Linked DNA regions of Homo sapiens: region 2 is linked to region 1. Evidence: fine-mapped expression QTL. A gene starts in region 1. The other region holds a variant in brackets. All regions are shown on one strand. Distances are from middle to middle.

Region 1 (2,500 bases):
CACCACCTTCCATGCTTTGGGGTTGGGGAGTGGGCATGGGTTGTGCTCTGCAGACCCTCTCTGCCACCATCCAAGCTCACCTTATTAAAGGCATTCTTCACCTGCTCCACGGCCTTGCTCTTGTTTTCACAGGGAAGAAATCGATGCTGTGGAAGAAAAGAGAAAGTGTTGGTGATCCTGGCTTCCAGCTCCATGTCCATCACACTTAGGGGACAAGCTGGTGGCATCATGAGGAGGCCAGATTTATCCAAATGCCTTGCCTCACAGCTCCCAGAGAGAACTGAGCCCTGCTTCCATGGCCCTGGGAGTTAAATGTATTTCTCCAGGACTCACTCCAAGATGTTTGCAAGGCTTGGATGACAACCCAGGTCTTGGGATTCCTTCCTCCCCCAGAACTCTACAGTATCTCCTGCAGTGCTGAGCGAGGCATTCTTCAGCCTGTCCTTTTCTGCCTCTCTCTCCTGTTCCTCCCCGTCAGTCACAGCCACCGAGGAACACTTCTAAGCATCTGAGGAGGGAAGCTACTGGGACCAAACCCTTCACATAGCCTTGTCCTACAAATAGACACCAACTGATTTTCCAATATTGGTGACAGAACAGGGGAAACCATTAGTAGTGAGGGCATCATTTCAGTTGGAGAAATAAATTACCTGGAGGAATTACTCATAGACACTAGCCTGGGGATGAATAGCCCCCTTGTCCCTTCTAAAATGCCAGGGGAAATCCTGTCAGTCAATTGGGCCCTTCTTAGAGCTTTGCTTTCAAAACATTGAGATTAAAAGAGGTGAATGATGTTTCCTCTGCTTGGGAACCTTAGCTCCCCGCCCAGGGTCTAGTTACAAAGAGGCAGTGGAGGCCTGACTGAAGCTCTGGGCTCCTTTTATGAAGAGAGAGGGGAGTAGTTAATAACCCACAAATGACTCACAAATAACAGGAAAGCTGTTTGCAAATTTCACATGTAAATGCCTAGCAGCCACCCCCAACGCCTGCTCAAAGAGAAATGAGCAAGAGATCTGACTCCAGGAGTCTTTCCTCATTTACAGCTAGCTCTGCCAGTCTGTGTCTTTGCTGTGTCTGTGGATGTGAGTGTCCCTGCTGGTCTGTAGGAGATGGTATTTTGGGGGCAGCTGCAAGGGAAAAAACTGATCTGCTACTTACACAGCGCCGTAGCCTCAGCCTGAGGGTCTTCAGGTTCTCCCCCAGGGAGTTCACATGCGCCTTGATGTCTGGGTCTTGGTTCTCAGCTTGGGGCATCACCTCCTCCAGGTAAAACTGGATCATCTCAGACAAGGCTTGGCAACCCAGGTAACCCTAAGGGCAGGAGCCAAAGGTGAGTGAGAGATTGGCGGAGGTGGCTGGGAGGAGGGGCTGCTGCAACTAGCTTAAGAGGACAGCTTGGTTCTAGCGATCCTCCTTCACCAGAAGCCTCCCCGAAGGGACTGAGCCCTTTGTAAACCCTCTGGCTGCTGGATGTGCTGAGTTAACATCTTCCCACTTCTCCTTTTCAAAGCGAAGGAAACAAACCCAATTCCCTGCAATCAGGAAGCAGAGTCTCCCTTCCCTTAATCATGCTGCACACTCCCCCAGCACCCCGCCCCTGCTCTCACCTTAAAGTCCTCCAGCAAGGACTCCTTTAACAACAAGTTGTCCAGCTGATCCTTCATTTGCTGCAGGAAGAACAAAAGGAGAATGAACTTGAGGTTTGGGGAAATAACTGAAATGCGGTCTTTTTGATGCCCTTTCATTTAGAGATTTTTTTTTTTAAATAAAATTGGCTCTGGCCCAAAAAAATCAAAAGGGGAGTTTTAAAAACAGAGGATTCAACAGTGATGGGACCATCACTTAAATCAGGTCCTCCTCCTCAGAGTCAAGTTATTTAAAAAATCTGGCCGATTTTGAAGGGAAAGCAGAAGCTTGACTCAGTCCTGGTCTTCTTTCTGCGGAGCTACATTCGGCTTTAAGGGACACCTATGTCAACCCTTCGGGGCCTTGAGCCCCCCTCATGTCCTGTTCTCTGCTTTTCTTTCTCCCCACTGTAGACATCCAGTTTAGCTTGGAAAGATCCCAGGGATTAAGAAGCTCCTTCTAATGCAGGTTTCCCTCATGTAGAGTGCTTCCCTAAACCACTGGTCTTTCAGGTCTGGAAACGCTCTAAGCAGAGGCAATTTAAATTTCCCTGCTGCAAGGCATGGGGAGCATCTTCACCTCGAATCAGACATTTCTTTACTTCTCCTAGCCAATAAAGTATAGAGCGCCAGCAGGATCTTATAAGTTTCTCAGCACGAGAGAGAACGCATTTACTTTATAAGGCAGGTTTCCTGCACATTTACTGTATCATCTGGCTTAGCTTAACTCACCAAACCCATGGCTTGATCTAGGATTCTCTTAAGAATTTAAGTTTGGGGGAATAGGTGTTGGGGATGGAGGTGGAGGCGCAGGAGGAGGGTTCTTATAGTTCCAGGAGAATGTCTAGTTCAGGCAGTCCCAGGAAGAGAGAAAG
Region 2 (2,976 bases), 72 kb after region 1:
AGCCTGAGTTTCTGCATTTAGATCACACTGTCAAATGATACCAATGCTTTGAAGAGCAAGAGTTAGGGAGTCTGTTATGGGCTCTGCTTCTTTGTGGAGAGACTCTGTAAGATAATGTTATAGAAATAGCTAAGAGTTACATGGTTCTTACTATAAGCCAGGTATTGCTCTAGGCACACAACAAGTATTAACACACATTCGTCCTTCCCAACAATGCTATGAGTCATTATCTGCATTGGATACATTAAGAAACTGAGGCTCGAGCAGGTAAAGTAACTAAACTAAGTTCACACTGCAACTGCACGGCAGAGGTAGGATTCAATTCCACGCTGGCTGGCTCTACAGGACGCGCTAAAAGCATGAACTCAGTCTGCTGAGGAAGGAGGTGGAATAAGGCAGGAGACTTGGGTTTCATTTCCAGCTCTGTTACTAACTGGCTGTGTGACATTGGGTAGGACACTTGCTCTAGGGGCTTTAGTGCTCTAATATGTCAAATGAGGACAACATGCTCTCCCTACCCACTGTCCAGCACCTCAGGGACAAAGATGTTCTGGGATAACAGAAGCACTAAAGCAAGCTGGTGTGGAGAAGAAAATCAGCGGAACTGGCCAGTAAGGCAGATTTTTTTTTCCTGTGAAAAACAGAGGAAAAAAAAACCTGAGGGAAAAGAATGAAGAATTTTAAAGTTCTGTTTATAAGGAGCTGACATAATTTAACTACTTGTTTGTGGGGAAAAAAATTGGTTGCCTGCGAGGAAAATAATATTGAGTCTGTATGTTATGCAAATATATTTCGTGACAAAAAAACAAAAACAGAAACAAAACCTTGTGGGAACCAGCATATGAAGAAAGTGACTTGAAAACCATTACACAGTCTAGAAAGGTGGGTTCTTACATTGATCTCTGATTTCAGCTGGAGGTCCACGCTGCTGCCATTAAATCCCTGGGAGAGCTCGACGTCTTTCTAGCCTGGATTAATAAGAATCATGAAGTAATGTTCTCAGCTTGATGACAAGGAACCTGTATAGTGATCCAGGGATGAACACCCCCTGTGCGGTTTACTGTGGGAGACAGCCCACCTTGAAGGGGAAGGAGATGGGGAAGGCCCCTTGCAGCTGAAAGTCCCACTGGCTGGCCTCAGGCTGTCTTATTCCGCTTGAAAATAGCCAAAAAGTCTACTGTGGTATTTGTAATAAACTCTATCTGCTGAAAGGGCCTGCAGGCCATCCTGGGAGTAAAGGGCTGCCTTCCCATCTAATTTATTGT[A/G]AAGTCATATAGTCCATGTCTGTGATGTGAGCCAAGTGATATCCTGTAGTACACATTGTACTGAGTGGTTTTTCTGAATAAATTCCATATTTTACCTATGAATGGAAGGATCTTTTCATTCAGGGAGAGTCAGTCAAGACTGAGGACAGGGTGTTTCTGACAGAGGGATGGTTGTCATGGTGACAAAGCTGAACAAGCACAGACACAAGTAAGTAGAGAGGCCACTGGGTAGAGAGGCTGAAAAGGGTACCAACATCTAGATGGACACTGCATAGATGATTCAGAGCACAAATGTGTATCTTTCAGATTTCATATCACATGCTTTAATGGAAAGAACAAGACCTCTGAAGTCCAATTGATCTGGTTCCAATCCTATGTGACTTTGAACAAAGCACTTAACGTTTCTAAGACTCAGTGTCCTCTGTTGTAAAGTGGAGATATTAACACCAGTCCTGTAGTGTTGCTGTGAGCATCGAGTAAGGAAAAGGTCTCTCATGACCTCAGCAGGGTGGGAGACAGCACGGTGCAATATAAAGACTGCCGACTCAGGGGCCACCTTCTGGTTCTAAGGCATCTCCTGCCATGAATTTCCCAGGGCAGGTCAGTACATTTCTTTGGTCCTTAGTTGTTAGTATTGTGGATACTGACCCTTCTGTACTACCTGCTCCATATAATTATTTATTTATTTATGGAGACAGGGTCTCACTTTGTCACCCAGGCTGGAGCACAGTGGCATGGTCATAGCTCACTGTAGTCTCAAACTCCTAGCTCAATCAATCCTCCCTCCTCGGCCTCCCAAAGTTCTGGCATTACAGACTTAAGCCACCACACCTGCCTCTATAATCATTTAAAAGCTGGAGTCATTATGAGGGCTTTGACAACCCTGATATCTGCACACACACCCCTCCTGGCTGTTTTCCCTAACTGTGTCCCTGCTCCTTCCCCAGGCTCACTGTGACCCAGCCATAGTTGTTTGCTCTGTGTTTCGCAAACACACCAGGCATGTTCTCACCATACAGTGTATGCACTTTGTGTACATGCACACTCATAAACTGAGGTAGGGTTAAAAAATAAAACAAACCCTCCACACATTATGCGTTAATGGGATTCATACGCTATTAGGGAGCAGGGTTGTTTGCTGAGGACCTAACTTTTCCAAAGTGACCTTGGATGGGCACCCACCCTGAGCAGGCTGGGTGATGGCAGTTATAGCATTTCTGATCTTTTATCACTGCCCTGGGATGTGCTTCCCCTGGACACCTGCATGGCTTGCACCTCCACGTCTTTCAGACCTTCACTCCAAAGGTCTCGTATTGGAGGATAACCCCCCATTTCCACCTTCAGCACACTTTGTACCCCTTTCCTGTTTATCTAGCATCCTATTTTGTTTATTAGCTGCTCCTCCACATGAATGTAAGCTTCATGAGTGTAGGGATGGTTTAGTTTGTTCACTGCCTGGCACTTAGTAGGTGTTAAATTCACAATTCACCTAGATTATTTATTCAAGAAATGTGAATAACCACAAACATGTATATAGTGCTTCCTATATGCCAGCCGATAGTCTAAGAAATACACTTCTTGTAATATAATATAATATAAATACATATATATATATTTCATTTAATTCTCACAACAATCCTATTGTAGGTTTTTAGAATGAAATAAAATGAAAAAGGCCACCTCATTGATTGTTAGCAGTATGGATAATTAA

Direction of the effects. Alleles are on the strand shown, and positions count from the first base shown. SD is a standard deviation of normalised expression in the study named.
As copies of G replace A in region 2, the expression in testis of the gene that starts at base 1,025 in region 1 goes up (large effect, 0.82 SD a copy in GTEx).

What was found. PIP is the estimated chance that this variant, and not a neighbour inherited with it, causes the effect.
Region 2: its variant is the best candidate, but not a certain one, in a credible set for the expression of IL19 in testis (GTEx, PIP 0.87).

The regions. Positions count from the first base shown.
Region 1 is chr1:206,769,749-206,772,248 of GRCh38, forward strand. IL19 (interleukin 19) reads left to right here and starts at 1,025. Exons shown (of 7, transcript NM_153758.5): 1 at 1,025-1,330. IL10 (interleukin 10) reads right to left here. Exons shown (of 5, transcript NM_000572.3): 2 at 1,608-1,667; 3 at 1,159-1,311; 4 at 81-146. RefSeq lists an enhancer at 1,186-1,375 and cis regulatory regions at 2,375-2,500, 2,457-2,500.
Region 2 is chr1:206,841,615-206,844,590 of GRCh38, forward strand. It overlaps IL19 (interleukin 19), which reads left to right. Exons shown (of 7, transcript NM_153758.5): 7 at 913-1,367. The coding sequence ends at 1,008. It overlaps LOC105372878 (a long non-coding RNA gene), which reads right to left and starts at 1,207. Exons shown (of 3, transcript XR_922482.3): 1 at 895-1,207; 2 at 1-104. The variant A/G (reference allele first, on the strand shown) is at 1,266.